4 linked regions of the Homo sapiens genome follow. The protein of the gene in region 2 interacts with the protein of the main gene of each other region in a pairwise test. Each region holds a gene or a part of one and is shown on either strand. Other genes may lie near its edges. The genes, in order: FBF1, TTC32, ARID3A and ZNF219.

The links.
Region 1: the proteins of TTC32 (region 2) and FBF1 interact in binary tests that used the Homo sapiens proteins (3 or more experiments, as listed by UniProt).
Region 3: the proteins of TTC32 (region 2) and ARID3A interact in binary tests that used the Homo sapiens proteins (3 or more experiments, as listed by UniProt).
Region 4: the proteins of TTC32 (region 2) and ZNF219 interact in binary tests that used the Homo sapiens proteins (3 or more experiments, as listed by UniProt).

What each region holds. Positions count from the first base shown.
Region 1 is NC_000017.11:75,936,355-75,945,564, reverse strand, and holds the start of FBF1 (fas-binding factor 1), read left to right. Parts: upstream 1-4,522; 5' UTR 4,523-4,717; intron 4,718-7,332; 5' UTR 7,333-7,415; coding exon 7,416-7,418; intron 7,419-7,971; coding exon 7,972-7,999; intron 8,000-9,210. UniProt on the Homo sapiens protein: Keratin-binding protein required for epithelial cell polarization. Involved in apical junction complex (AJC) assembly via its interaction with PARD3. Required for ciliogenesis.
Region 2 is NC_000002.12:19,895,076-19,899,616, reverse strand, and holds the end of TTC32 (tetratricopeptide repeat protein 32), read left to right. Parts: intron 1-1,581; coding exon 1,582-1,748; intron 1,749-2,490; coding exon 2,491-2,630; 3' UTR 2,631-2,986; downstream 2,987-4,541.
Region 3 is NC_000019.10:928,532-937,219, forward strand, and holds part of ARID3A (AT-rich interactive domain-containing protein 3A), read left to right. Parts: intron 1-482; exon of another isoform or gene 483-614; intron 615-730; 5' UTR 731-997; coding exon 998-1,365; intron 1,366-3,886; coding exon 3,887-4,211; intron 4,212-8,688. UniProt on the Homo sapiens protein: Transcription factor which may be involved in the control of cell cycle progression by the RB1/E2F1 pathway and in B-cell differentiation.
Region 4 is NC_000014.9:21,094,711-21,103,226, forward strand, and holds the start of ZNF219 (zinc finger protein 219), read right to left. Parts: upstream 3,946-8,516; 5' UTR 3,602-3,945; intron 1-3,601. Other genes in the region: TMEM253 (transmembrane protein 253), read left to right, coding at 6,634-6,741, 7,155-7,265, 7,354-7,410, 7,695-7,805, 7,923-8,069, 8,429-8,516. UniProt on the Homo sapiens protein: Transcriptional regulator. Recognizes and binds 2 copies of the core DNA sequence motif 5'-GGGGG-3'. Binds to the HMGN1 promoter and may repress HMGN1 expression. Regulates SNCA expression in primary cortical neurons.

The sequences.
Region 1 (9,210 bases), on a different chromosome or scaffold from region 2:
TTGTTTTGTTTTTTTTTAATCTACGCCATATGCCTCATGAAACCAGCTGTTCTAGAATCAGTCCTGAGAATATGGCTTAATTCCATGGAAACATAACTCCTATCTTGGGACCTGACATAATATCTATCTATCCTGGGGAACTGGTAATATGAGACTTATAGGTTACAGCAGAAATGCTACATGTTGACAAAAGCCTTAATCGTTCCACTGGGAGAACTAATTGATAATTGTGTTAAGATTGAAGATTAACCCTGTGTTAATCTCACTTGAGTCTATCCTGACAGTAGTTCAGATTCTGGAAAATGATAAACTGACCTGCTAGATGTAGAATTGTTTCAAAATTAGTGTTGAAATACCTTGTTCACAGATGAATATCTGGGCAGGATCTGAGGGTGTTTGGAATGACACCCCCCAATCCAGTTGCATAGATGGGATGTCTTTGCAGGTTTGAGGAGATCATCGACCTGCAGAGCCCCCTTTGACCCAGTACCTCACGTTTTATTTAAAATCTAAATCTGGGGCCAGGCGTGGTGGCTCACGCCTGTAATCCAAGCACTTTGGGAGGCCGAAGCGGGTGGATCACCTGAGGTCAGGAGTTTGAGACCATCCTGGCCAACATGGTGAAACCCCGTCTCTACTGAAAAAAATACAAAAATTAGCTGGGCATGGTGGTAGCACGCGCCTGTAGTCCCAGCTACTCGGGAGGCTGAGGCAGGATAATCGCTTGAACTTGGCGGGTAGAGGTTGCAGTGAGCCAAGATGGTGCCACTACACTGCAGCCTGGGTGGCTGAGCGAGACTCCGTCTCAAAAAAAAAATCTAAATCTGACATTTGATGCTATTTTTATTAATATTGGAATGTTCTGTCTTGAACTTTATTCAATATAATCAAGAATAAAGATAGAGTAAACGTCACTGATTTGTACTATTAAGAGAGAAAAAATATGCCACACAACTAAACATAGGTTTAAATTATGAAGAAATTTAGAATAGAGGTTTATTAGATTTAGGGAACACTAAGAACAAAAAAGGAAGGAGTGATACCTGCCTGAGTGGACAGCTGTAAATCAGCTGTAATTACTGCAGTTGTACCAATAGTTGTGAGTGGCTCCAGTCACTTTAGGAGTCCTTGGAAGTACTTGGTACACATTTGTTGGCTGTACCTTAAAGGAAGTGGCAAGTCCAGTTTGTTCTCTCTACCACACTAGACTGCCACTGACAAGTTTGGGTCTGTTGGATTCAAAATTTTGTAAGCCATTTTCACAAGTACAAAGATACATTTTAACCTTGTCTTCTCCAAAATTACTGAGTAGGAATTTTATTTTTATCTTTTTGAGACAGGGTATCACTGTCACCCAGACTGGAGTGCAGTGGTGGGATCTTGGCTTACTGTGACCTCTGCCTCCCGGGTTCAAATGGTCCTCCCTCCTCAGTCTCCTGAGTAGCTGGGACGACAGGCACGTGCCACCATGCCCAGCTAATTTGTTCTATTTTTTCTGTAGAGACGGGGTTTTGCCATGTTGCCCAGGCTGGTCTCAGACTCCTGGGCTCAAGCGATCATTTCGCCTCAGCCTCCCAAAGTGCTGAGATTATAGGTGTGAGCCACAGCATCTGGCCCAGAGTGAGGAGAATTAATGAGATTTTTTGTGTGTGTTAGATAATATTGATTTAAGCCTTTTTTTAAAAAGTACTCTCAACCAAATACAAAATTGAAAATGTGAGGTTTAATAGAAATGTGTTGGCTATTTGCAATGGATTTTCTTCTTGCCCAAGTGTTTGGAGTTCTACTTTATGCTCTGTATTTAAAAATTAGTGACCTCAAAGCAGAGTTGATGACACAGGCTTTGGGGCCCTCATGTTCTTGTCTTTAGAACATATCACTACTAAGTATCAGCTTATCTTCAGAACATTACAACATTCACCGTGTTCATATGCTTTCTGAGAAGTCACCACTTGTAATTTCAGATCACATACACCTGAAGGCATTTTATAGTTCCTAAAGTTAACATGTTAGATCTTTTTTTTCCACCCCATGAGGGTCTCACTCTCACCCAGGCTGGAATGCAGTGGTGTGATTGTAGCACACTTTGGCCACCAACTCCTGGGCTCAAGTGATCCTCCTGCTTTGGCCTCCTCTGAGAAGCTGGGATTACTGGTGCACACCACCACACCTGGCTAATTTTTTATTTTTTTTTATTTTTGGAAATAGGGTATGGCTATGTTGCCTTGGGCCCGTCATGAACTCCTAGCCTCAGGTGACCCTCCCACCTCAGGCCTCCCAAAGGGTTGGGATTACAGGAGTGAGCTACTGCACTGGGCCAACATGTTAATTTTTTTTTTTTTTTTTTTGAGATGGAGTCTCCCAGGCGGGAATGCAATGGTGCGATCTCGACTTCACTGCAATCTTCACCTCCCGGGTTCGAGCGATTCTCCCACCTCAGCCTCCTGAGTAGCTGGGATTACAGGCACCTGCCATCACGCTCGGCTAATTTTTGTATTTTGAGCAGAGATGGAGTTTCACCATGTTGGCCAGGTGATCTGCACTCCCACTCCCCCCACACTTCCCAAAGTGCTGGGATTACAGGCATAAGCCACAAGCCACCTCACCCAGCCAACATGTTACATCTTAATTCTTGGATTTTCTTCACTGCAGGGCTTTGGGTGGAGAAATAAAACTCTTCAAATGCATGATCTTGGAGATCCCTGTGAATCAATAATTCTTTAGACAACTGCGGCTCAAAATCCCTCCTTTCCCTTTTCCGAGTTATTCCATCCATCTTATTAGAAAGGAAGTGAATTAGGTGTAGGTGGTCTGTAACACCTGCACATCTTTTTATACGTGTAGAGGGTATGCCTGGGATATATAGGTTGTCTTCAAGCAGTAGCTGCTACTACAGCTAGAGAGAGGAGGAGTGCCAGGAAACTGATGACCTGAGACCAAGAGTCTTGTTGATGTTCTGACTTAGATAAAGGTTTTGATCATTTTCATGAAATAATGCAGGGAAGTCATTTCTGCTGTTTCTTTACTACTCCATTCTTGGAGGATTAGAACAAGTCACACTGTAATTGACTAAAACGACTTTTTATTTTAAAATATTGATGGTGGGGTTTTGCTTTTTTTTTTTTTTTTTTTTTTGAGACGTTGTCTTGCTCTTTCACCCAGGGTAGAGTGCAGTGGCGAAATCTTGGCTCACTGCAACCTCTGCCTCCCGGGTTCAAGCAATTCTCTGCCTCAGCCTCCTGAGAAGCTGGGATTACAGCGCCTGCCACCATGCCTGTCTAGTTTTTTTGTATTTTTAGTAGAGACAGGGGTTTCACCAAGTTGGCCAGGCTGGTCTTGAACTCCTGACCTCGTGATCCACCCACCTCGGCCTCCCAAAGTGCTGGGATTACAGGCGTGAGCCACCGTGCCGGGCCAGTGTTTTTAACTGTCCACACTTACTAAATTTTCCAGTACTTCTTCCTATGGTTCATGATAGTAAACACAGAAACATATAAGGAACATTATTAGAGTTACCAGATGTTAGCTGTTGCATATGTGCACATTCCTAGATTCAAGGGTGTTTTTGCCTTAAATTTAAGTGGGTCATTGGTTGTCTTGGGAAGATCATGGAAAATTCGGGATTTTTTAGAATTCTGAACCAAAATATGTTTTGAGTGTTTCTTAGTAAATGTGTGATCTTCCACCTTCCACATTCAGACTGCGGACTACACTTCATAAATGCCTTTTTATTTCCAGTTATGGATTCAACTAAATGACTGCCTTGGGAGCACATAATTACTTTGCTACCTTTTTCCCCCTTTGCTGTTGTGGCTCGAGTTTGGTTCTCACCTGAGAAGATGCATTGAGCATATGTTGTTACCCAGCCCTGGCTTAATGGTGTCCTGTGGGGTAGGGGTGGGAGGACGAGGGGCACGGGGCCAGAGCATGTGAATGGATCATGGTTGGACAGCTGTGACCTGCCAGCACTGCGGGTAAGCAAAACTACAAACCGTTCTTTCCTCTGTGACATTGAATAAACCTTAATAAAATTCATAATTAGCACATACTAGAAAAAATGTGACTTAATCTTTTTGTGGGGCGACAGTATTGGGTTTCATTCTGGCTATACAGCTTTGATTGGATCATTAAACAGGTCAGTCACTTCCCTCAAGCTTTGGGGTGTGGAATAAACACCGGTGAATTTGTGGATTCACCCGTCAACCTCCCAATATCAACACATTTCTCACGCCTCCGCGTCGGCCACGTGTCAGCCCTCAGAAGTGGGCAGGAGGAACTTTTAAGCTTCCCGGCAGTTCCCAAGAGGGCCTTTGAGCCTGGCGCCCTCTTCCCGGAGAGGCGTTGGGGCAGCTCCTAGCAACGTGCCCGCCGCCGGCAGAAGCCCGGCCCCGCCAACTGCCGCGCGCGGCTCCCTGGGAGCTGTAGTTCTTCATGGCGTCCCCACCTCCTCTGTGAGGGCGGGTGAGTCGACCGCCGACTGCGACTCCCAGGATGCCTCGCGCCCGCCTTTCCGCGGGAGGCCAGACGGCTGAGGGTGCCGGCAGCGGCTGGAAGCGGGAGGCCAGTCCTGGCCGGGCTGGGCGACCCGAATGGAGCCAGGGCCGGCGCTGGTCCCAGCGGCCGCACCTCCGGGGGCACGGCGCGTAACAGGAGGCTTCCGGGGCTGAGAGCGTTACAGGCTGCGCTCCGGGGCCAGATAGGCCGGGCGCTCAGAAGGGTGACGCATTGAGGGGCGCGGAGTCTCGGGACGGAGGGGCGACTCCGGCTAGGGGTCTTGCTTAGGGGTGGTCTCGGGATCTGTAAAACGCCTGGCATGGAGTCGGCTGAATACATGTGGGGACGGGGTTACTCTGTAGCCCTTTGGCCTTGGCAAACCAAGCCTAGAAAATCCCCATAGTCTGAGAAGCCCGTACAGGATCGATAGGAGATGCCAGAAGTTCCTTGATGTGTTATGGGACACATTTGGACTTGTAGGTCGTGAAGTCGCCATTGCAGAGAAAAAGAAACAAGGCCGGGCACGGTGGCTCACGCCTGTAATCCCGACACTTTGGGAGGCCAAGGCGGGAGGATCACTTGAGGCCAGGCGTCTGGGACGACCCTGGGCAACATAGGGAGACCCCCGTCTCTACAAAAAAAATTTTAAAATTTGCCGCACATGGTGGCGTGTGCCTGTGGTCCCAGCTGCTAGGGAGGCTGACATTGGAGGATCGCCTGAGCCCAAGGAGGTCGAGGCTGCAGTAAGCTATGAGAGCTGTGATCGTGCCACTGCACTCCAGCCTGGGCAACAGAGCGAGACCCTGTCTGGAAAAAAAAAAAAGAAAGAAGGCCAGGCGTGGTGGCTCACACCTGTAATCCTAGCACTTTGGGAGGCCGAGACGGGCAGATCACGAGGTCAGGAGTTCGAGACCTCCTGGCCAACAGTGAAACCCCGTCTCTACTAAAAATACAAAAATTAACCGGGCATGGTGGCATGTGCCTGTATTCCCAGCTACTCGGGAGGCTGAGGCAGGAGATTCGCTTGAACCCGGGAGGCTGAGGTTGTGGTGAGCCAAGATCGCACCACTGCACTCCATCCTGGGCAACAGAGCAAGACTCCGTCTAAAAAAAGAAAAAAAAGAAAACACATGTATTCAGGGTGGGCTCTGTAGGTAAGCCCAGATAACCCTTGCATTCCAATAACAGGACAGGCCAATACTTGGGACATAAAGAGGACCCCTCTGACTCCTTTCTTCCAGGACATCCTGTAGGTGGGTTTTGGTAAAGTGGAGGAGGGGGAGGGAGACAGCTAATTCCGAGGAAAATGTTCTCAATGGGTCAGATTTACTGCCTATGTAAAGGGAAATATTTCCACTGTCAGTGAAAATCGTGTTGCTGGACGTGGTGGCTCACACCTGTAATCCCAGCACTTTGGAAGACCAACGCAGGAGGATTGCTTGAGCCCCAGAGTTCAATACCAACCTGAGTAACACAGTGAGACCCCGTCTCGAAAAAAAAAATTTTAAAAAGAAAAAGAATATCAAAGAGTAACCAGAGTTCATACCTGCTTTTGTGCTAAATGCTGCCTAGAAAGTAGTCATGGGTGTTGCCTGGGAAAGGGTTTCAGCCTTGGTGCCAGGCACCCACCTCCTTTCTGAAATGAGTACTTGCCACTTGCTGCATCGGCTTTCAGGGTAAGGGATGATGGCCACTGCCCTTTTTTCAAGTAATCTCAAAGCCTCAGAAAGCCCATTAAGTTATCCAGAGCACGTTTTTTTTTTTTTTTTTTTTTTGGAGACAGAGTCTCGCATGTTGCCCAGGCTGGAGTGCAGTGGGGCGATCTCGGCTCACTGCAACCTTCTCCTCCTAGGTTCAACCTAGTCTCCTGCCTCAGCCTCCTGAGTAGCTGAGATTACAGGCATATGCCACCATGCCCAGCTAATTTTTGTATTTTTAGTAGAAATGGGGTTTCACCATGTTGGTCAGGCTGGTCTTGAACTCCTGACCTCAAATGATCTGCCCACCTCAGCCTCCCAAAGTGCTGGGATAACAGGTGTGAGCCACCGCGCCCAGCCTGAGAGTACTTTGCTCCTCTTCTGAAGTGCATCCCCTATAAGGAATTTTTAATTTATGGAAATGGGCTTTACCTCTTGAATGGGCAAAGTGAGAGAACTTTGATAACCCTTGGATTCATGCTGTTAAACCTACATCTTTTTTTTTTTTTGAGATGGAGTCTTGCTCTGTTGCCCAGGCTAGAATGCATAGCATGATCTCAGCTCACTGCAACCTCCGTCTAGCGGGTTCAAGCGATTCTCCTGCCTCAGCCTGCCAAGTAGCTGGGATTACAGGTGCCTGCCACCACACCCAGCTAATTTTTTGTATTTTTTAGTAGAGGTGGGGTTTTACCATGTTGGCCAAGCTGGTCACGAACCCCTGACCTCAGGTAGTCCACCTGCCTCGGCCTCCCAAAGAGTTTTGGGATTACAGGCATGAGCCATCGCGCCCGGTCTCTTTTTTTTTTTTTTTTTTTTTTGAGATGGAGTCTCACTCTGTTGCCTAGGTTGGAGTGCAGTGGCGCGGTCTTGGCTCACTGCAGCTTCCACCTCCCCGGTTCAAACGAGTCTCTTGCCTCAGCCTCCTGCTGCGGGATTACAGATGTACACCACCACACCCAGCTAATTTTTGTTTTTAGTAGAGACAGGGTTTCACCATGTTGGCCAGGCTGGTCTTGAATTCCTGACCTCAGGTGATCCCCCCGCCTTGGCCTCTGAAAGTGCTGGGATTAACAGGCGTGAGCCATGGCGCCCAGCCAAAGCTACATCATTTTTAAGCAACCACTTTAATTTTCTTCATTAGGGAGTATGAGCCTGATGTGGGCAGAATCCAGATGAGCTGGCCAGTGCTGTGAAGGAGCTGAGAGCACCCCCGAGAGCCGTGAGATGGTAGGCAGAGTTCAGAGTAAGATGCATGGAAAGCGAACATGCCTCCCATCCTGCATCCCCAAAGATCTTGACTGCATGCAACACTCTGGGGGCTGGGCGGCAAGGACCAGGATGGAGACCCTGGAGAAGAGTGACAGGAGGTGGCATTGATACCAAACTTTCGACGACCAAGGTTTCTTCTGAGACTCTGAGTGTCCAGCTGGAAGCGTTTTTAAGTGTCTGTCACTGGTATTGAGGAGTCAGGGGCACGGAATAGAAGACATTTCCGGTCACATGACATCTCGGCTGGGAGGGTTTGCATGTCGTGTCTGGGAAAGGAGTGACCTGCCCGCCCATTGGCACCCATCGCTGGTTAGCAGGGCTGTTTCCACGCTCTGAATGAGTCCGTTCTCAGAAACTATAGGAACACATAAAGGACTTACATCTCTAAATGCCATTGGTGCTCTTGCCTCTGGTTACTTGGCAAAAGGCAACGCAATTCATTCTGCATTGCCAATTTCCACCTGTGTTCACTGTTTGGTTTTCTTGATGTGATTTGTTTTTCCCATTTTAGGCACCAAAAACCAAGAAAGGATGTAAAGGTGAGTGGAGAGATGGAACATTACTCTTAAGCCAAATATATATCTTTTTCCCCTTTGGTCCTGGAACAATGAGATGTGTTTATTTAAATGTTTTTGGGCCGGGCACGGTGGCTCACACCTGTAATCCCAGCGCTTTGGGAGGCCGAGGTGGGTGGATCATGAGGTCAGGAGATCGAGACCATCCTGGCTAACACGATGAAACCCCGTCTCTGCTAAAAATACAAAAAATTAGCCGGGCGTGGTGGCGGGTGCCTGTAGTCCCAGCTACTCGGGAGGCTGAGGCAGGAGAATGGTGTGAACACAGGAGGCGGAGCTTGCAGTGAGCCGAGATCTCACCACTGCACTCCAGCCTGGGCAACAGAGTGAGACTCCGTCTCAAAAAAAAAAAAAATGTTTTTGATCAGTCTTGCTGTTCTTCCCATTATTCCGTAGGCAGCCTTGGTCTTCCTTATGTTGCCTCACTGGTCCTCAGAGAAGTTCAGACGTAAATAAGATATGAGGTTTTGGAAAAAATCCTCCTCCTTGGGCTCTGTATCCAGAAATATGTGGTTGGGATTCAGGGTGGGAAAGCTGGTGTGGGGAAACGAATTCGATATTCATACTTAGGTTCCCCCACATGCCTCCATCAGAAAGTGGCCATTGATGAGGACATCCAGACCAGTTCTGGGGGGTCTTAGATGGAAGGGTACAAGGAGCCTACTTGTCTGAAAGTAGCCTCCATGTGCCTAGAAATCTTGGGCACTCTTCCCAGCGAGCTGCACTGGGCTGTGTTCAGGGTCTGGAAGACTGATCTTTGGCCAGTGTGTCATGGTAGGCAGGTAGAATATAGGTTCTGCTGAAAATCTGCACCATCATCCTTTCAGATAGTTGTGTTTTTTTGTTTTTTTTTTTAAGACGGAGTCTTGCTCTGTTGCCCGGGGTAGAGTGCAATGGCGTGATCTCAGGTCACTGCAACCTCTGCCTCCCAGTTTCAAGCAATTCTTCTGCCTCAGCCTCCCCAGTAATTGGGATTACAGGCATGTGTCACCATGCCCGGCTAATTTTTGTTTTGGTTTTGTTTGTTTGTTTGTTTTTGAGACGGCGTCTTGCTCTGTCACCCAGGCTGGAATGCAGTGGCGCGATCTCGGCTCACTGCAACCTCTGCCTCCCAGGTTCAAGCAATTCTCCTGCCTCATCCTCTCCAGTAGCTGGGATTACAAGCATGCGCCACC
Region 2 (4,541 bases):
AATGAATTCCATTATAATAAATACTATCATTACAAAAATTTTAATATTACAGAAAATTTCGGCTTCAACTGTTAGTCCATTTCTTTAAAATATGAAACAAAATTTCCACATGAAAACGATTTTAGAATTTGATTTAATGAGATCTAATTCTAAGTCTAACATTTTATGATTCTCTATATTACGAATATATAATTAGTATTAAAAACTTATAACAATAATTTTGAAACTTCGATTTAATGACTAAAACCTTACTGGCATCCTGAGATTGCTTTTTTCTTTAAACTCTCTACTGGGAGCAGTTCAACTAGTGTCATGTCACACATAGGTGAAGGGGAGTGGTACCGTCTTGTAATCTAGGTTTTAACGGGGGTGCTTAGTGGCATCCAGAAGTATCCCTACATCCAGTCTCCATCACAGCTCATAGAATAGACGTTTTCTAAAATTGCGACAGTTCCTCTCCATCGTTAGCAAACTTGGTTTGAAGGAGGCCCTTGGGCTGTGAGTGCCTCTTAGGGTAGCAGTAGTTACAGTCCCTGTCTGAAATCTCAAGGATCAAGATATTAAGAGAAGTAGCTTTTATTTACACTAACTGCCTTCACAGATACTTTCGGAGGACTATACTTTTTACTACGGGGTATTACAAAGAAGTGACAGATGAATTCTCTGTTTGGTTCTAATTTGAGAATTGCTTTGGGAAAAAAGAAAGGGAAACAGAATCATCCCTGACTCAGAGCAGAGGCACTAATGTTCTCTGTGCAGACTATTTGTCCTGTGCAGAGAAAGGTTCAAGGCAGCCAGGGGCTGTGACCTGTTGAGCTGGTGGCTGGTCAGAGCTACCTGGCTGTACAGCCCAGGAATGGCTGCTAATTTAAAGCTCTTTGGGCAACCTCTAGTTCCCTCAGGTGCAGAGCCAGTTCTGCACAAAGGACATCAAAATTGACTGGAGCCCTGAGGGGGTCTAAAGGAGCCCACCCTCCTAGCAGGAAGCCAGCCTGGCATTGGGGAGGATGCCAGCTGAGGCTGGAGGGAGGGCAACTCTGTCCCCAGAGATAACTTCCTGGGGATCGTAGCATGTTGAATTTTCACTTAGCGTTAACTTTAGTTTTTTATTGGTGGAAAATGATTTCAAATCTTATTGTTTTAAGATCACTTAAAAATTTGAGAATGAAATTGATTCACATTGTGACATATCCATAGCAAACTCGGGCTTTGGGCTGGCTTTCCCTCTTTGCTTAGTATTTATCTGTTCTGTCTTCTTTGCCCTGCTGGTGTGTGCTTAGAAAAATGAACAATCATTTTAATGTTATATTCAGCAGAACAAATTGGCAGTGAACACACTGTAAAGTTAGTATGCTTTTCAGGTTGACATTGCAGTGGTATAACCCTACAAAAGTAGATAACAGGGTTAAACAAAAATTGATTTTAGCTCTTTATTTGTACGTTTTTTCTTCAGCTTGGATTTTCAGTGTTGATGCTGCATGTTATAGGCTGTGAAGTTTGACAATACCCAAAAGAGAATGAAAGTGGAAATGAGAGGAATTTGGTAACACGGTGTTTTTAATGTGAACTTTTTGTTTAAAGCAAATGCAGCCCTGAGGATTTGGCTACTGCATATAACAACAGGGGGCAAATCAAGTACTTCAGGGTTGATTTTTATGAAGCCATGGATGACTACACATCTGCCATAGAAGTCCAACCCAATTTTGAAGTTCCATATTACAACAGAGGGTTGATACTGTATAGGCTGGGTAAGAATTTTTTTTCTTTTTGAGTTTTGTCATTGACTGTATTCTGTTATTTCAGAGCTTTCAAATGTTGTAAAACTAACGTGGTAATCAAATTTTAAAGTTCTGTGAAATTTAGGTTTAGAGCTTGGAACAAAGGAAGTGTCCCTGAGTTTATTTTAGGCTTTTGATAGGCGTTATAGATCACAGCAGAGCACTGGGGTGGGAATTGGACCTGGGCGCAGGAGCAGGGGTGACCCCATTACTTTGTGCTTGTGCATTCCCAGCTGTGAAATGAGGGCAATTCAGATGTTCACCTGTGAAACTTTTCTGAGTTAAAATCTTTGAAGACACACAAGACAATAGAAAGTGAAGTTTAGATTCTTGGATTAAAGGGACCATAGGTAGTGTTTCTTCATTTAAAGTGTCAAAAAGAAAATTAGTTCCCGTTTCTTAATTTTACTGCAATTATGTAAAACAGGTGATACAGTTTTATTAAAATTTTAAGATGATTGATAATATTTACCTGTTAAATCTCAATAAATAAACCCATAGCTAATTTTAGGTGTATTATTCCCTAAGGGCACACAAAATTACTTTGATATACACATCTCTATATTATTAAGATAAAAAGATTCCTTTACTAGAAGTGACTGAAAGCTCATAAATATAAAAGCAAAAGTACATGTATCAAAGCTTTTCCATGAATAATATATAGAAATACTCGGTTTCTTTTCTCTTTTCCATTTTTTGGGTTCTGGTACAGGATATTTTGATGATGCTTTGGAAGATTTCAAGAAGGTCTTAGACTTAAATCCTGGATTTCAAGATGCTACTTTGAGCTTAAAACAGACTATTCTAGACAAAGAAGAAAAACAAAGAAGAAATGTTGCAAAAAATTATTGATATTTTTAACTTAATGGAAGTATTGATTCATGATCCTTACATCTGCATCTAGTTATCAGTAATTTAGATATTGAGCTATTTTGATTTATATTTAAGAAATTAATACATTAGCACTGAAAGTTAAATAGTGTGTTTAAGGTAGTTAATTTCAGGTTGAATGGGTTTTTTTTAATGAAGTGTAAATAATACCAATGTATAAGTGTATATTATTATATTAAATATTATAGTAAAAAGGAATGTGTGGTATTTTCTTCAGCAAAACTATTTTTGTGATTTTTTTATTCTCAACTTTTTATTTAAAAAATGTTACATCTGCAGAAAAGTTGAAAGTATAATAAACTCTTCAGTTAAATTCATGAGTTGTTAATATTGTGCCACATTTGCTTTTTCTATTTAAATATATAACTTTTTGCTGAAACATTTGAAAATAAGGTGACGAGGTCACAGTACTTCGCCCCTAAATATTTCAGCCTACATTTTCTAAGATTGAGGACATCCTCCTTTATAACCACAATACCATTATAATACCTAATAAAATGAATAATTCTGTAATGTCAGCCATATCCAGCCCATATTCCAAAGTGTGTAGATTTTTATTTGGATCTAGAGCCAATCAGGTTTCAATTGCATTTTTTTTTTTTATGTTTCTCTCAGTTCTTTTAATCTAGTCCCCTGTCCATTTTCTTGCCCTAGCATTGGCTTTGAGAGAAAGGCTATTTTATATAGCTAGGCTAGAGAGACATAACATTTAGGCTTAAAAATAAACATGTCCTACAATTTGAAAGAGTTCAGCTTGAATTACACTTGATTTTCTCAAGTAATCATTGATAAAAATAGGTTAAGATTTAAATATTGAACATATTTTCTGTCTCTGGATAATGACAATTGTTATCAACATTTACTGAATACTATAAGCCAAGCACTGTTCAAATCTCCATAATAATTTGGTGATCAGGTAGGAATGTATAGAGAGGTGAGGAAATGACAAAAAGCACTTAGTAAGTATAAAGTTTAAAAATCTTTTATTTTGGTGCTGCCAACAATTAGGCCCTTATGAAGCTATCAAAAACCGGGAAGAACTTGAAGGGAAAACAGACTAACACCAGCCATATGCCATCTACATTTTTTGTATTTTATTGTTGTTTGGCTTCCAAAGATTCCCAAACTAGTTTATTACTGCTATGGAAAAGCTGTTCTGTGGTGGAAATTACCCGAATCAGGAGAAAGGAAAGTTTGCTTTGTGTCTTCAGAGGAAGGCGCAGGGTAACTTCTGTGGCCTCAGATGCAATCAGCAGCAGCAGCCTTAAAATGCTTTTTTTGTGTGTGTATGAGTAATCTCATGAAGCAGAAAAAGTAATTGCCCTGTTTGTAGCTCATAAGTAATATCTGGCAAAATACATGGAGAGTTTGGGCTGTAGGTAAGTGAATATTAAGAGGAAATTAAGTTTCATGGCCTAGAAACAAAGTCTCTGTTTCTGGAATTATTCATACTTTCCAAAACGGTTTATCTTATATTTGTTGGAAATCTAAAAAAATTTCTAAAATTGCATTAAAATGTAGAAAAATCCTTAGGAAAACTTTTTTTTTAAAAAAGCAAGTTTCCTAGACCTTGGGAGGGAAAGCTTTAAGCCATTCCACCCAGAGAAGCAAATGCTTAATGTTTAATTTTATTTTCTCTTGACTCATATTCTCTTTACTCTTGACTGGGATCAGATGGAATATGAAAAGGAAAAATTGTTTAACATTTTCATGTGGTTTGTTAGATTATATTCAAAATTTCTTCATCCTTTATCAGAAAAAAAAAAAAAAAAGTCACTTAAGTTCAGAATCAGCAGTTGCTGATTGTAGACCCAGGCACTCATTTTCTCTTGTCTTGTTACTGGAAATAAAGAATAATTCATTTACCTTGTT
Region 3 (8,688 bases), on a different chromosome or scaffold from region 2:
CAGACCTGGGTTCAAATCCCACCGCCATGTCTCCAAGCAGAGGATCCCTGAGCCTCAGTTGTCCTCAACCATGAAATGGGACCGCCCTGGTGCCCCCTTCTCTGACACCTGTTGGTGCCCACCTTAACCTCCTGAACTCGATTCATCCCTCCTTGAGTGCCATGGGTTGGGGGGGTACTGTTACCCACACTGTTTTGCAGGTAGGGAACCTGAGGTCCAGAGAAGTTGTGGCTTGGGCGTTGCTGTTGAGTTGTGTGATGGGGGGAGGGTTAGCCCAGGGCCCGTATACAACAGGCGCTCAATCTCCAGTCTGGCCTGAGATGGGAGGATACCTAGATACCTGGAGGCCAGGCTGGGCCGCTCCAACAGGGACTCAGGCAGCGACTGGAACTTAGAACCCACCTGACTGGGGCCCGGAGCCCGCTGGCCAATCACAGGCCAGGAACGCCCATTCCCCCACCCTGCTTGTGAAGCAATAATCCAAGATCTCCTGGGGCAGACAGTCTGGCCACAGCGTGTTTCTCTGTGGCCCCGTGCGGGGCGACCTTGCTACCCAGGCCCACAGTAGGCTGTATGCGAAGAGCCTGCGCCTCTGCCTCCAAGAAGGCCTCCAGGTCTGCATCCTGCATGAGATGGACATGAGAGCTGATCCCCAGGGCCTTCATGGGGAAGGAAGGAGGGGGCTTGAGGAGCTCAGGCCTGCTCTGACTGTGCCTTTTTTCCCCCTCAGGTTTCTGCAAATGCGTGAATGAGCCGGATGCCAGCCTCTGTCCCCTGGAGCCCAGCGTGAGGAAGAGGCATGCCCCATCAGCCTTCAGCTTGAGCCCGGCGGCCCCCGCCCCCGCCCCCTGCCACCCTGCACTGCCCCGGCTCCCCCGCGGCCCCCACGCTGCAGTGCGGCCGGGCCCCCTCCCCGCAGGGGCCGCCCCCGCCGCCCACCCCTAGCGCCCGTGGTGGTGGTGGTGGTGGTGGTGGTGGTGGCCCGGGCCGCAGGGCCATGAAACTACAGGCCGTGATGGAGACGCTGTTGCAGCGGCAGCAGCGGGCGCGCCAGGAGCTGGAGGCCCGGCAGCAGCTGCCCCCCGATCCCCCTGCTGCACCCCCCGGCCGGGCCCGGGCTGCCCCCGACGAGGACAGAGAGCCCGAGAGTGCCCGGATGCAGCGGGCTCAGATGGCCGCACTGGCAGCCATGCGGGCTGCAGCTGCGGGCCTGGGACACCCAGCCAGCCCCGGCGGCTCTGAGGATGGGCCCCCAGGCTCGGAGGAGGAGGACGCGGCCCGGGAGGGGACACCGGGCTCACCCGGGCGAGGCAGAGAAGGGCCAGGAGAGGAGCACTTTGAGGACATGGCCTCCGACGAGGACATGTGAGTTGGGGTCTGGGGCAGGGCCTTCTGGGGGCTGTTACTGGCTCTGAGTGTCACTCTGCTCATCTGCAGAATGGGAGTAAGGGTCAGGTCGCGGGATCTCCTTCCTGTAATTCCAGCAGTTTGAGAGGCCGACGTGGGAGGATCACGTGGGCCCAGGGGTTGGAGACCAGCCTGGGCAACATAGCAAGACCCCATCTCCGCAAAAAATTAAAAAATTAGCCAGGCATGGTGGTGCACCTGTGGTCCCAGCTACTGGGGAGGCTGAGGCAGGAGGATCCCTTGAGAACAGAAGTTGAGTTGTGATTGTGCCACTGCACTCCAGCCTGGATGACAGAGATAGACCCAGTCTCAAAAGAAAAATGGTTTTTTTAGCCGGGTGCTGTGGCTTACGCCCGTAATCCCAGCACTTTGGGAGGTCGAGGTGGGTGGATCACCTGAGGTCAGGAGCTCAAGACCAGCCCGGCCAACATGGCGAAACCCCATCTCTACTAAAAATACAAAAATTAGCCAGGCGTGGTGGCAGAAGCCTGTAAACCCAGCTACTCGGGAGGCTGAGGCAGGAGAATGGCTTGAACCTGGGAGGTGAAGATTGCAGTGAGCCAAGAATGTGGGTTTTTTTTTTTTTTTTAGACAGAGTCTTGCTCTTTTCGCCCAGGCTGGAGTGCAGTGGCGTGATCTCAGCTCACTGCAACCTCCTCCTCCCGGGTTCACACCATTCTCCTGCCTCAGCCTCCCGAGTAGTTGGGACTACAGGCGCCCGCCACCACGCCTGGCTAACTTTTTGTATTTTTAGTAGAGACGGGGTTTCACCATGTTAGCCAAGATGGTCTCGATCTCCTGACCTCATGATCTGCCTGCCTTGGCCTCCCAAAGTGCTGGGATTACAGGCGTGAGCCACCACACCCGGCCAACTTTGTTTCATCTTAGTTAACTTAAAGCAACCTAGCCACCGATGGCTACAGCAGATTCAGCGGCAGGGGCAGATAAAATCTGCAGCCGGCTGGACCTGCATAGCGTGTGGGTCCCCCCAGGGCTGGCTGAGGGCTCACTTGCTGTGGGATCCTGGCCTCCAGGAACCCGCATCTTCCTGGGAGGACCTGAGCAAGCAAAGATGCTGGGCGCAGTGGCTCACGCCTGTAATCCCAGCACTTTGGGAGGCCGAGGTGGGAGGATTGCTTGAGCCCAGGAGTTCAAGACCAGCCTGGGCAACCTAGTGAGGCCCCATTTCTACAAAAAGTACAAAAATTAGTCGGGTGTTGTGGCATGCATCTGTGGTCCCAGCTACTCGAGAGGCCGAGGCGGAAGGACTGCTTGAGCTCAGGAGGTCAAGACTGCACTGAGCTGTGATCACACCACTGCACTCCAGCCTGGGCAACAGAGAAGACCCTGTCTCAAAAAACAAAACTGGCCGGGTGCAGTGGCTCATGCCTGTAATCCCAGCTACTCAGGAGGCTGAGGAGGAGAATCGCTTGAACCTGGGAGGCAGAGGTTGCAGTGAGCCGAGATCGTGCCTTTGCACTCCAGCCTGGGCAACAAAGTGAGACTGTGTCTCAAAAAAAAAAAAAAAACAACCAAACAAAACCTAGCAGCAAAGAAGCAGGTGATATCAGGTTGTACAAACAGCTGCCAATGGCTGGGCGTGGTGGCTCACGCCTGTAATCCCAGCACTTTGGGAGGCCGAGGTGGGCGGATCACGAGGTCAGGAGATCGAGACCATCCTGGCTCACACGGTGAAACCCCGTCTCCACTAAAAATACAAAAAAATTAGCCAGGCGTGGTGGCGGGCGCCTGTAGTCCCAGCTACTTGGGAGGCTGAGGCAGGAGAATGGCATGAACCCGGGAGGCGGAGCTTGCAGTGAGCCGAGATTGCGCCGTTGCACTCCAGCCTGGACGACAGAGCGAGACTCCCTCTCAAAAAAAAGACAAAAAAAAAAAAACGGCTGCCAAGAAAGTCTAGGAGGGTGCCGTGGAGGGGCAGTGGCGAGGGTGGGGCGGATTTCAGATGGCGGTGGGAGAATTCTCCCTGTGGAGGGAAGGGGAGGTGGAGCTGGGACAGCATGCATGGTGCAGGATGCAGGAACCAGCCTGCCGTAATGATTCCCTTTTTTTTTTTCCCAAGAGAGTCTTGCTCTGTGGCCCAGGCTGGAGTGCAGTGGTGCCATCATAGCTCACTACAGCCTCCATCTCCTGGGCTCAAGGGATCCTCCCGCCTTGGCCTCCCAGAGTGCTGCCGGGATTATAGGTGTGCGCCACCGTGGCTGCCTGCGTGATGCTTTTCAAGGCCCCAAAATTCACGCTGTAGGGACGGCTTGTGCTGTTCTGGGCTAATTGGAAACAAAGTGGGCGTCACGGGTGCCCCACGCTGTGCTCATGAGCGCTCTCTGCAGTCTGAGCTGGCGGCGGCCGGCTCTTCCTATTTCCAGAGAGGGAAACTGAGGCTGGGCGGGGAGTGGGTCTTTCCTTGGGCTGGGACGAGCCAGCACCTTCTCCCCTGACTCCTGCCCTCTGCTCACCCCAGGAAGCCCAAATGGGAGGAGGAGGAGATGGAGGAAGACCTCGGGGAGGATGAGGAGGAGGAGGAGGAGGATTACGAGGATGAGGAGGAGGAGGAGGACGAGGAGGGGCTGGGCCCCCCAGGCCCTGCCAGCTTGGGCACCACGGCACTGTTCCCCCGAAAGGCCCAGCCACCCCAGGCCTTCCGCGGCGATGGCGTTCCCAGGGTGCTGGGGGGCCAGGAGCGGCCGGGGCCTGGCCCTGCCCACCCCGGAGGGGCCGCCCACGTAGCCCCGCAGCTGCAGCCGCCTGACCACGGCGACTGGACTTACGAGGAGCAGTTTAAGCAGGTGAGTGGGCGCGTCCCGCGTGGCGGCTGAGGCACCTGCTCCTGGGCCAGTGGGGCCCTTTGAAGGCCCACGTTGCACGGGGTGTGTGCTGAGCCGGGCGTCGAGTTGAGAGCTGGGGGTTCCTGCGGTAGCTGTGCTTCCTGTGCTTCCCTCCTGGGCGTGGGCTCGACCAGCTGGCTGTTCATTGCTCTGATGTGGGATGTGTGAGGAGCACCCGGCCGGGTAGGAGAAACCTGGGGGGCTCCACGGCCCCCATATCGGAGGTGATGGGGCAGAGATGGAAAGGTGGGCCTGGGAGGGAGAGGCTGGCGCCGGCCCGAGCTGGGCTTGGGTTGGAGGAACCAGGCCTGCGGGCGATGCGGGCAGAGAGGCCGGGGCCTTGGTGACGTGGTGACTTGGCCTCCTCTGTCCCCTGGCATCTGTGGAGAGCCGTGGGGGGTTGCGGGCTGCAGCTGGCAGCCGAGGGGATGTGGGGGTGGCTCAGGTGTGGCTGCAGGAGACGCAGGAGCCAGGGCCTGTGAGGCTCCGAGTGGGCGGTTAAGGCTGGGGCCGGCAGGGGGTCTCAGGGACCCCAGGCTGAAGGAGGAAGTAGGGGCCGCCCCAGCCTTTCCCCGCAGGCGGCCAGGCCAGAGGAAGTGGCCGGGCGGGGGATGCTTTGAAGTTGGGCCGTGCTGGGCCGGGCAGATGGAAACCAGATGGTGGCCAGGCTCACATTCCAGCCCTCGTCCAGCTGGGCTCTGCCTCGACCTCTGGGCGCGGCTGGGGGGAGCCACCTCCTCGCCCGGGGCTGGAGCTGGTCTGGGCTCCCGCAGGGAGGTGGATGATGGACACGCTGGGACATGCCTGCCTCGGGGCAGCCCCTTCGGCCCTGGGCTTCCAGAATCCGCTCTGAGGAGCCTCCTAGGAGGGGCCAAGGCACAGACACCCAGGGGGGCCTCCCCGGGGCTCCTGACTCCAGGGGTGCCGGGTAGCTTAAGGGGCGGCCCTAACCCCAGCAGCCCTCAAGAGACTTAAGGTTGGGCTGCCTGGAAACTCACAAATAGTAAAGAGCTGAAAGCCGGACACGGTGTGGGAGAATGGCCAGGGCAGCGGCGGGGACTCGGTGGGGGGGGGGGGCGTCTCGCTGATTCCACCCTGCTCTGTGACTCAGTTTCCCACTCCTGCAGAAGGGGATGCTCCACGGGCCACACTGCCGCGCGTCCCATTCTGCCAGTGAGAAAACAGAGGCTCAGTGTTGGGAGGAGGGGTCTTGTGATCTTTTCTGGGTTTAAGATGATACGGATGAGCATGCTGAGAGTGGATTCTCTTTAATTTCATTAATTTAATTCACCAATTAATTTAACATTCACCCAATATTCGCCATCTGCCCGGGACTCAGCCCGCAGGGAGCCCTGGGCTGGAGGGGCGGGCAGGAGCCGGACGGAGACCTCCATCCCCGCAGGGTTATAGCCAAGCCGAGAGGGAGGGTCAAGGCCCCCCATTCAGTCGGTCCTTCGGGGGTCAGAGGTGAATGGGACCCCCTGACCCTGGACACACGCCCCGCCCAGACAGCCCCGGCCTCCAAGGCCCAAAGCCGATGGGGGAGTTTTGGGGTGACTGGCCCAGACCAGGCAGGGATGAGGGGCCAGGCGCCCTGACCCCACAGCCCGCAGCATGTCCTGAGCGAAGGCAGGAGGCAGAAGCCACTGTCTACCTTGTCTGGGCGACACCGCGGGTCAGGGTTGTAGGTGCCATGTGGGGTTTTTCTGCAGCGGGAAGCCGAGATGGGGAAACTGAGGCCAGTGCAGGGAGGGGGGTCACTGTGTCACCGGCAGCCTCAGGTATTCCTGGAGATCCTGCCGCCCCGCACCTGCCCCCTGGGTGTACCGGGCAGTGCAGAGGCCCTGAGGTGGACTAAAGCTCGGCTTGTGTGTAGGGACCGGGTGCCGCCTCTGGGTCTTGCGGGAGACGGGATTGGAACTCCGAGAAGATGAGGGCCTAGGGATGGTCGTGGGCAGCGGGGGTGGGGGGAGGCCCCCGCCCTGCAGTCCTGTGACTTTTTTTTCTCTAGAGAAGGGCTTTCACGGTGTTGCCCAGGTTGGTCTCAAACTCCTGGGCTCAAGTGATCTGCCTCACTCAGCTTCCCAAAGTGCTGGGATTACAGGCCTGAGCCACGGTGCCCAGCCAGTCCTGGGATCTTATCCTGGGCTGTTCGTGGCAGGTCCAGCCGCCGATGCCGCCGCCCGCCCAGCTGGCCAGACACCTGTGTTCCCAGTGTCAACAGTGGCCTGGGCCCAACCAGCCCAGTCAGTGTTACCTCCCGCCCGGCCCCTACTGGGGCCCCTGTTGACTCTGGCGCCTGCCCCACCCCCTTCCTGGCACGTGGCAGGCCTGGCCCGCTGGCCGGCCGCTTGGCACCGTCTCTGCCTCTTCCTCCCAGGTCCTGGCAGGGCTCGGGGCTAACTTCCGCCTGCAAATCCTCGACAGCTGTGAAATTCTGCTGTCGGCTGCAGGTCTGGTGGGTGGCCAGGCCGCGGCGGGGGGCCGGGCGCAGCAGGCTCAGGGCCACGGGTTCTTTCCTTGGACACCTGGAACCTTGCTGCCTGGGGCCTGGGGACGTGCAGTTTTGGAGGCCAGCACGTGTCGGGCAGTGATTAGGATCTCAGCCTCCTGATGTCTGACGTAGCCTCCTGGTGGCCTCCTGTCACCCACACAGCAGGCCCAGCTTCTAGAAAGCGGCCACGGTAGGATTTTATTGGATTATTATTATTTTTGAGGCAGGGTCTTACTCTGTCGGGTAGGCTGGAGTGTAGTGGTGCTGTCCTAACTCACTGCAGCCTCGATCTCCTGGGTTCAAGCGATCCTTCTGCCTCAGCCTCCTGAGTAGCTGCGAGTACAGACGGGCGCCACCAAACTCAGCTAATTTTTGTAGAGACGGGGTCTTGCTATGTTGCCCAGGCTGGTCTAGAACTCCTGGGCTCAGGTGATCTGCCCTCCTTGGCCTCCCAAAGTGCTGGGATTACAGGCGTGAGCCACCGCACCCCACCATGGTAGGATTTTATTTATATATTTGTTTATTTATTTTTTGAGACGGAGTCTCGCTCTGTCGCCCAGGCTGGAGTACAGTGGCGCGATCGCGGCTCACTGCAAGCTCTACCTCCCGGGTTCACGCCATTCTCCTGCCTCAGCCTCCCGAGTAGCTGGGACTACAGGCATCCGCCACCGCGCCCGGCTAATTTTTTGTATTTTTAGTAGAGACAAGGTTTCACCGTGTTAGCCAGGATGGTCTCGATCTCCTGACCTTGTGATCCGCCTGCCTCGGCCTCCCAAAGCGCTGGGATTAAAGGCGTGAGCCACCGCGCCCGGCCCGTGATGGGATTTTACACGCACAGGCGGTTAATCACAGATCTTCAGCTGCTTAAGGATTTGAACCTTTAGTCTCAACAATTCTAATAAGTGTTGAATGAATTTGAGATGAATCTTAAAAAACAGCTTTATTGGGCTATACTTCATATGCCATACAATTCACTGTTTTAATTGTACGATTGGGGCCAGGCACAGTGGCTCACACCTGTGATCCCGGCACTGTGGGAGGCCGAGATGGGCAGATAGCCTGAGCCCAGGAGTTCTACACCAGCCTGGGCGGTATAGCAAGACCCCATCTCTACAAAAATTAGCTGAGTGTGGTGGCGCACACCTGTAGTCCCAGCTACTTGGGACCCTGAGGTGGGAGGATCCCTTGAGCCCAGGAGGACAAGGCTGCAGTGAGCCGTGATCGCGCCACCACACTCCAGCTTGGTGACAGAGCGAGACCCTGTCTCGAAAAAATAAGAAGGATAGGGTGGGTGCAGTGGCTCACGTCTGCAATCCCAGCACTTTGGGAGGCCGGGGCAGGCGGATCACGAGGTCAGGAGATCGAGACCATCCTGGCTAACACGGTGAAACCCTGTCTCTACTAAAAATATAAAAAATTAGCCGGGCGTGGCAGCACGCGCCTGTAGTCCCAGCTACTTGGGAGGCTGAGGCAGGGGAATCACTTGAACTCAGAAGCAGAGGTTACAGTGAGCCGAGATCATGCCACTGCACTCCAGCCTGTGTGGCAGAGAGAGATTCTGTCTCTAAATAAATAAAATAAAATAAACCCTGACCCTTTAACTATTATCCCCCTATTCTACCAGCACGCCCCAGCCCCTGGCAACCACACATCCCCTCCTGCCTCTGTGGATTGGCCTGTTCTGGACATTTTATAGAAATGGGATCACATAGCTGGGTGCAGTGCTTCACGCCTGTAATCCCTGTACTTTGGGAGGCTGAGGTGGGCAGAGCACCTGAGGTCAGGAGTTTGAGACCAGCCTGGCCAACACAGCAAAACCCTGTCTTTACTAAAAATACAAAAATTAGCTGGGTGTGGTGGCGGGCACCTATAATCCCAGCACTCGGGAGGTTGAGACAGAACCGCTTGAACCCGGGAGGCGGAGATTGCCGTGAGCCGAGATCG
Region 4 (8,516 bases), on a different chromosome or scaffold from region 2:
GAAGAGGATAGGGGTTGGGGGGGGGGGCGGGTGCTGATCCTAAGCTGCAGAGGAGTTTAGCATGAGGACTTAGAAGAAACCCCAGAATCAAGATTCATGGAAACAGACCTGGGAGGATGACCAGAAGTCATCTAGTCTACCTTTCTGCCTCATATAGAATAGTATCTGGTCAAGGCTAAATGAATGTGGGTCTAACCTTTTTTTTTTTTTTTTTTTGTCTAAGAAAGGATATTTGAGATATAAAGAACTTCCTTACAATAGGCATCACAAAACTGAAATGGGTTACTGAGAAAGAAAAAGATGCAAGCATTACTTTGCCTAAGGATCTTTAATAGAAAAGAACTGTGCCAGGAGTCAACCTGCCTGTCAGCAGAGAGAAAAGGCTCTGGAGGTCCAAGGCTTCTTTAATTTTTGACATTTAGTGGATGTGGTAAAACTCCATGAAGGGGCAGGTACCTGTTACATGTGGAATCTGGGCTATAGGATTATTATTAGCAGATGATTAATTAACAAAGTGTCCTTGTCCAAGGGTCACTAGACGACCTCCACTACCACTTAATATGTGTATTTCTGTAGCTTCAAATTAGGGCACCCACTCTCATCCTCTGGATCCTTTCCTGGGACTAAGAGCCTAGCCAGGCTTACTGAATAGTGTCACAAAAGGTGAATTAGAATAGGACTGAAGGGTACAAGGCTATTGTAGGCCTAGTCTGAACATTGATAACCCTACAACCTTTACTAAATCACTTAACCTCCCAGTTTACTCATCAGTAAAATAAGGGGATTGGACTAATTTATAGTGTTAGTCCCTTCCTGCTCGAAAAAAGTTTGTGATTCTAAGTCACAGGACTCTTTTGGACCCCAGAGAGATGTTAAAACAAATGGTCATCCCTTCAGTACCATGGAGAGTGCAGTGGGCTACCACAGAAGCCACTTGGGCCACCTCAGTACCATAGATAGAGCTATGAGGTGCTAGAGGGGCTGTTTGCCATTTTAGCATCGCAGATACAACACAGAAAAGCTAGAGCATTTTTTTTTCGTTCCTATCTGAAAACCATAGAAAAAAACCCAGTGGTACCAGAGGGATTATTTTGGCCTTTTAGATGTCACTGAAAATAGAAAGAGCTAATAGAAAATAGATGTAACTAGAAGAATTTTAATTAGCTATAAGGAGCATCCTGACAGTTACAGTTTGTACATCCTGGAATGAGTTACTGAGGCATCATATTTGGGTCCATCACATTCTGTTGCTCTCCTGGGGATTCCCGGAACATCCTGGTGTACAGCCAATCTGGTATATTCAGAGGAAGCAGATGGTGGAGGCGTGGGGCGGGGGGGCTGGGAATACTGCATGGTCATAGCTGACTAACCTATGGGCACATACTCTCATTCTGAGAAGATTCTAGGGCCCCTAAAACTGTCTGTAGGATAGCAAGCAAAATCTCTTAGGAAGCTGGCCTCATATCTGAGGCAAGAAGAGTCAGAAAAGGGCAAAGCTTCCTATCCCAAAACAAAACAACAATAAACCACTTTGCACATAGCAGTTTCCAGAACAGAAATAGAGTGATATACAAGAAGGCCCAAACTGAAGCTGAATTCCCCAGCACGGAAAGTTTCCCCAGAAGGTGGCCTAAAATCAACAAAACTCACTGAGATACCTTCTTAGGCCCAATGAAGATCTGAATCATCTCCATATCAAACCAGGTTCCAGACACCTGATCCCATGATTTTTTTCTCAGTAGGGGAAAGAACTGACAGGGACTGGGATACTATGAACTGCCTTGGAACCGAGGTCATGCATATATTGCCCCTGGACAATAATCACAGAGTTTTCTATAGTCAGGCCTTAAACACCATCCTCGAGACTTGGCCAGACAGCAGCACTGACCTACTTTCCACCCCCACTGGGAATCAGGGGTTATCTTGCCCTTATTTGGATTCTATAAGGATGCGGGGCCAGGGATAGATATCAGAAACCTTTCAAAAGCAGTAGGCCAATTATCCTTACATGCTGGGGCAGCTGGTAGGGAAGTGGGTGTGGACCACTAAACCTTACTCAGTAGAGAAGGATGGAATGGTTGGTGAAAAGACTTAGAAACAACAAGGACAGGTACATAGAAGTATTTGCTAAATGGACCACAAAGACTGTCCCTCAAGTCTTGTGATTCAAAAGTTTTTAGGGTCAAAGTGTAAGGAGCAAGGGTTCAGGACTTCTGGGGTCCAGTTGTAACTGCCTCTGGTCACCTCTAACACGATGGTTTTCCCTCTTGAGAATCCTAGACCTCCCAAATCTGCTAACAATTATGATTACCACTGCACTAGATGGGGTTAAAAGGAAAGGGAGCTTCTAGGGCGGTCTACGTTCAAAAGACTACCTTGATCACACAGACACACCAGTAGTTCACTTTTATGGTCTCCTCTCCATGGCCCTCTGAACCTCACTGCTCAGATAGCTCCTCCTAACCCGCTCCACTCTGCAGCTCACCAGCCTTTTTAGACTGAGATCTTGGTAAAGCCTCCTTCCCTCTGTCCTCACTCTCCTGAGTTAGGGACATGGAACCTCAGCCATGGACTTCAAAGGTACAGCAGGAGGCGAGAGGAAGGCACACCTGCTCACCTGCTGCCATCCCACCATGGGGAATCTTATCCCAGAGGCATGTCCTAACGCAACCCCGATTTTGATTTTGAAAGTTCTGGAAGACCTGGGTTTGGGAAAGAGGGGCATGTAGCCAGCCCTAAGTCCCTTTAAGTGGAGCTGACCCTAGAAAAGTCAGTCTTAGCACCCACGTGAGCCTCGGTCCTCAGACTGGGAGGTAGGGGCGATCAAGGGAGCCTCTGGGAAAATCCCCCTCCCAGAAATAGATTGCTAAGTAGGGTAGGACCTGCTATCCTGCCGGAGAGGTTTTTCCAGCAGCACCCCAGACCCCTCCCCAGGAAGATAAGCCAGAAGGATGATGGGGGGCAGGGTTGGGAGATAGGGAGGCCAAGGCTCAGCTACCCCCGGCCAGGAGAACAAAAGCTGAGTTACAGCCGCCTCCGCTGCTGCCGCGGGCCGAGCTCTTTGTGACACTTTGTTTGGGACGCAAAGAGGGAAGCACCCCCCATCCTTTCCCCTCCCCCGCCACCCCGTGCTTCCAGAGAGTTTGGGCTCCTTCCCCCTCCCCCACCAGCCCTACCTGGGCCGGGGGTTGGGGGGTGCACATCCACTCAGGCTCGCGGCTCTGCCGCCCCTCACCCCCAGGTCCCTCGCGCCCTGCCTTCGGGCCCCTACAAAGACACCCGCCACCTCCCCCGCCACATCCCCCCCGTTGGCCCTTCCCTTTGGTGTCTGCTCCCCCAGCTCTTCCACCTGGCCCCCCCTCCCTTGGGGCCCCCCAGCTCTCCAGGCTTCCGAGGCCGCCACCCCCACCCCGCCCCCCCAGGAGCTCTGGGCGAAGTTTGCTTGGGGCCGAGCCGGCGCCCCTCCCCCGCCCCCGCCCCCTGCACCTGCTCCGAGCCGGGCGCGCTGAGCGGGCCCCCCCTCCGGGAGGGGGGAGGGGGCCGGGGGCGGGGGCCGGGTGGCGGACGGGGGGGCCCGGGAGTCGGGGGAGCGGCTACTCACGAGCCCCGGGCGGGCGGCGGCGGAGCGGGCGGCGGCGGCGGCGGCGGCGGCGGGCGGCGGGCCGGCGGCGCGGGCGTCAGCGTTACGTGGGGCCGGGGGAGATGCGCCGGGCCCCGGCCCCCCCGCCCCCGGCCCGGCCCCCGCCCCCTCCCCGGTCCCCCGCCCCCGGCCCTGGCCCGCATTGTGTGCGGCGGGAGGCGGCCCGGCCATTAGCATGCGGGGGGCGGCGCGGCGGGGCTGGGAGCCGCGCGGGAGCCGGGCTCTGGCTCCGGGGACAGGGAGCTGGGGACCCCGGGAGCCGCGAGAGGCGGCCGCCAGGGGCGGGGTGCGGGCGGTTTGGAGACGGGGGGCGCTGTCGGAGGGAGGGAGGAAGGGAGGGAGCGGGGGTGGGGCGCACAGAGGATTCCAACAGGAGACTGGAAGAGATTTTGAAAGGTCATCTCGTCCTTCCCCCAGCCTCCAAGCAGCACTGCCCCTCCCTCCCTAAACCCGGACATACCAGGGAAGGAGTTGGCTCTGCCGCTCTTTCTGCCCCAACATGCACAGACTCGGGAAGTTCTTCCTGGGGTTTTATCTCAAAGCCTCTCCCTTACAATTTCTGTCTCTCTTTTGGGGGAGGAGGAGGGGCGATTATAGAGATAGTTAATGTCGGCCGTATAAGAAACATTATTAAAGTTACTCTTCGGTCCTTTCCGTTCTTGATAAACAATTCCTGCGCCTTCCTCTCGAATTCTATTTTCCATTCCTCAAGTCACTTTAATGGCTCTTCAATACAACAAATATTTACTGAGTGCTTACTAAGTGCCAGGCACTGGGCTCAGCGCTGTGAGGGATGAGAAAGAAGTGGTACCTTCCTTCCAGGCGATTGTAGTCTAGACTACAAACTGGTAAGTAGTATACTCAGATTTAGTCAATATTTACTGAATGCCTGTTCACCTATCTAATAGTATATAATCTTTCCAATAACCCTCTATAATTAAATTAGCCCCCATTTACAAGTAAGAAAAATGAGGCTTCAGGAAGTCTGTTTCCCCAGTGGCCTGCAGGCTCGGGGATCCTCAGTGCAAGCCCAACATCTCACATCGCCACCAAATAAAATCAATGCACGTGGGAATTGAGGAGGAGTAGACACACAGCAGTTTTCTGGATCTCTTTAAAACGTGACTCCCACTCCCCGGGAAAGAAAAGAGTAGATACAATGACCCGCCGATGTTGGCACAGCACTGATGGGGCAGGAGTGGCTTACAAAAGATCACTTGCCTCCCAGGACCCTGCCTCCCTCCTCGTACTAACTTCTAGAGTCTTCTGGCGCAGTCTCCTCTTATCGTCAACAACAAGAAATAATAATAGTGATGATGATCATAGCCACTAACATTGAGCACTTGTGTACCAGGTACTGGGCTAAGCTCTCTTCCATGCTGAAAGCAACCCCTTGAGACTGGTATTATTAACTTCCTTTTATAGATAAGGGAACAGAGAGATTAAGCAACTTGCCAAGGGCACCTAGGTAGATCTGGGATTTGTTTTGATCTATAGAGTATATTTGGGCCCAGCTGGTTCTGCTTCCGACTGTAGAAATGTGTCCCCAGCTTCCTTCTGAATAACACTTTTAGTGTATGGGCATCAGACTTATCGGTGTGACCTCATCAGCACCACTAATAGTTATTAAACACCCACCCTGAATCAACAACTCTTCACAGTCATATTGTTAGCCCCCTTTTATCAGTGAATAAACTGAGGTGCGAATAGGTAGAAAAACATATCTATCAGGACAGACACAGTGGCCCACACCTGTAATCCCAGCAGTTTGGGAGGCCAAGCAGGGAGGATGGCTTGAGCCCAGGAGTTTGAGACCAGCTTAGGCAACATTGTGAGACGACCCTGTCTCTACAAAAAATTTAAAAATTAGCCAGGCATGGTGGCATGTGCCTGTGATCCCAGCTACTTGGGAGACTGAGGCAGGATGATTATTTGTGCCCAGAAGGTGTTGGCTACAGTGAGCCATGATCATGCCACTGCACTCCAGCCTGGGTGACAGTGAGCCCCTGTCTCAATAATATAATAATAATAATAATAATAATGTATCCAAGATCACACAGATGGAGAAGCAGCAGAGCTAAGATTCCAGCTCAGGTCTGTCTGGCTATGAGGCACCTTCTCTCTCAAAAATATTAATTGTTGCAATAGCATCCTTCCCAAGACTCACTATTTGAGGACCATGAGATAGATAGATAGATAGATAGATAATGTCCAGTTGCAGGTTATCATTGAATCAAAAACAATCCCCACCATAAACAGGGTCCCCCCCATCCATTGAGTCAGTGTTCAGTTCAGAGTAAAACCTTCAAGAAAGAAGGAAGGGAGACTGTCCAGAAAGTGAGAGGCAAGAAAGCCCCTGGAATTCAACCTTACCTGGTCTGGGGGCAAAGCTGCAAGTAGTAATGACAGGGGACCAATCCAGACAGAAAGTAGGATCTCTAGGGAAGGGCACATAATTTGAGGAGGAAGCCAAAGAAAGGAGTAAGATCATATGGAAATGAGGGGGAATTGAGGTCCAGAGTGATAGTGTCCATGGGGATGAGGTAAGTGAAACCAGAAAAGGAACCCAGGATGGGCAGAAATGAGGGTAATGAGAAATGGGAACAGAGTGAGGTCGGGCTAGACATCTTGTGGAGTGAACTGAGGCCGGTATCTACCCAGGGCCACTCCCTAGATCCTTAGGCCTTCATAGAAACCTTTGCCCCACCACACCCCATCCCTGACAGCCTTCCTCTGCCAGGACAAGTTTGTCGTCTGCTCTGAGCTATCAAGCCCCTTAGGAGACCTAGGACCCAGCTGGGTCCCATCCCTTTGGAGTAGCTGCTTCAGACTAGGTAGGTGTGAGGACCTGGACCTCAAATCCCTGGATATTGGGAGTGGGCAGAGGTGTAGCTGAAAGATACGTTGTTGCATGTCCTGTCTCCTAATAGACAGAACCTATAACGCATTTTTCCCAGCCTAGGAAGCACCTAATTCTTGTGGGCAAAGGAGCCATGGAAGATAGAGCTGGTGAGCAAGAGCAGGAGAGACACAGCCTTCGTCTGGAAAAGCTACAACACTGGGCAAGGCACAGGCAGAGTGGGCACCTCTTGGTGCTAGCGGTGAGGCCAGGCTACCCCATCCCAGGTCTCAGCATGTCCACTTCTACCCAATTCAATTCCATCCATCCATCCATCCATGTTAAGTGAGCACCTACCATGTGCCAGAAACTGAGCTAGGTTCTGAATGGGAGGAGGGTAGAGGAAAACATAGAAATAAACAAGGCAAGACCCTTAATCTCCCAAGTAGCTTCCATCTTGTGGGGGAAAACATACAGGTAAGTAACTAAACTACAATATGAGGCAGAAAAAATTAAATGATACTTAATTTTTAATGATCACGTCCTTGCTCTGGGTTGACTGCTTTCCTCCACCCTGCATTCAATCCCATTTCCTGATCTCTAAAGAGGTAGGAGTTACGAGAAGGGAGGGAATCCCTGACAGTTCCTCCCCAATTACCCTACCCTTACCCCCAGGTGAGCCAGCTATGGCTGGCAGTGGTTGTGGTGCCCCTTGCTGTCTCAGTCGCCTGCCTGAACTCTGATTGTCACATGGCCACAGCGCTGCCTCTTGGGCCTGGAGCCTCAGTAAGACCCACCACAAGGGAGGGTGGAAGGTCCCAGGGCCCCTTCCTAACGGGACCAGAGCTCAACACTTGCCCTTCTCACCATTCAGGGTCTCCTCACTGGGACTGTCACTCTGGAGCTTCGCAGAGCACCCCGCCTTTGGAAGGTGAGAGGGAAGAAAACGCAGCACTGTCCTCCCACTCCCTAAAACAGACACCTACAACCCTCAGCCTAGGAAGTAAGTGGCTAAGTGTTGACTCATTCTCTCAGCTGTCACCACTGACTGGCCTCAATCACTGAGGAGGAAAGCAAAAAAGTTAAGAGGGCTTATGGCCCTGTTTGGAGGCTGAGAAGCAGAAGCTGAGTTTTGTCTTCAGCTAGGCTGCAAGTGGGGATTGAGGTTGGAATGACTCCCCTAGGCTGGGCAGGGCTGAGCTGGCTCACTGGCAGGTGCGGGCCATGATGATATTCAACACCTTCAACTTGATCTTGGGTTTCATAGTGGTGGTGGTCGAGGTGATGAAGACAGCCTTGGGGCCTGCCCCAACTGCCTCCTCCCAGGTACTGGTCAATGAAGGAGAAGGTGGGAGGATAAGGAGGCAAGAGGAGGTGGGAAGGGAAAAGGGCAGGGGCAAACAGGTGCGGGGTCCCTGCATTCTCAGCCCTGTCTACCTGCAGCATGCTGGCTTGCTGGTGCTGGAACTCAGTGCTGAGGCCTTCACCCTAGGGGGAGTGCTGGTCTCAGTGCACGCCCTATTCTTGCTGAGCCAGAGGAAACCAGGATGCTGCAGGAGCCAGAGTCTGCACTATCAAGAGCTGCAGGAGGTATGGGGGCAGGGAAGAAAGCACGAATAGCTAGCTGCCAACTAATTTTTCCACTGCCTATCCTGGTCAGTGGCACTTAAGGGAAAATAATGGGGCAGGAGAGAAAAGAAGAGGTCCTAGAATGAAACTGATTGGCTTTCTCTGGCTTTGAACATTTCTCCCCTAATGGTGGGTAAGAGGAAACTGGGAATCCAAATGATTGAGGTTAAAAGAGTGGGAAAGCATTAGGAAGCTGCCTAAATATTGGCAGGACTATGGGAAACAGGATAGAAAATTGGGCAGGAGGAAGCAGTTGTTTCTGTCTGGGGTTTCTCCTTTCTCACCTCTACAATTTGCTCACACCTGTCTCTGGTTTTCAGGGCTTCTCTGAGTTGGAAGAGGTTCCTGGTTTGGAGAATGGTCCCACGGTGGCCAGCACAGGAGCAAATGAGAGGGTGGGACAGCGGG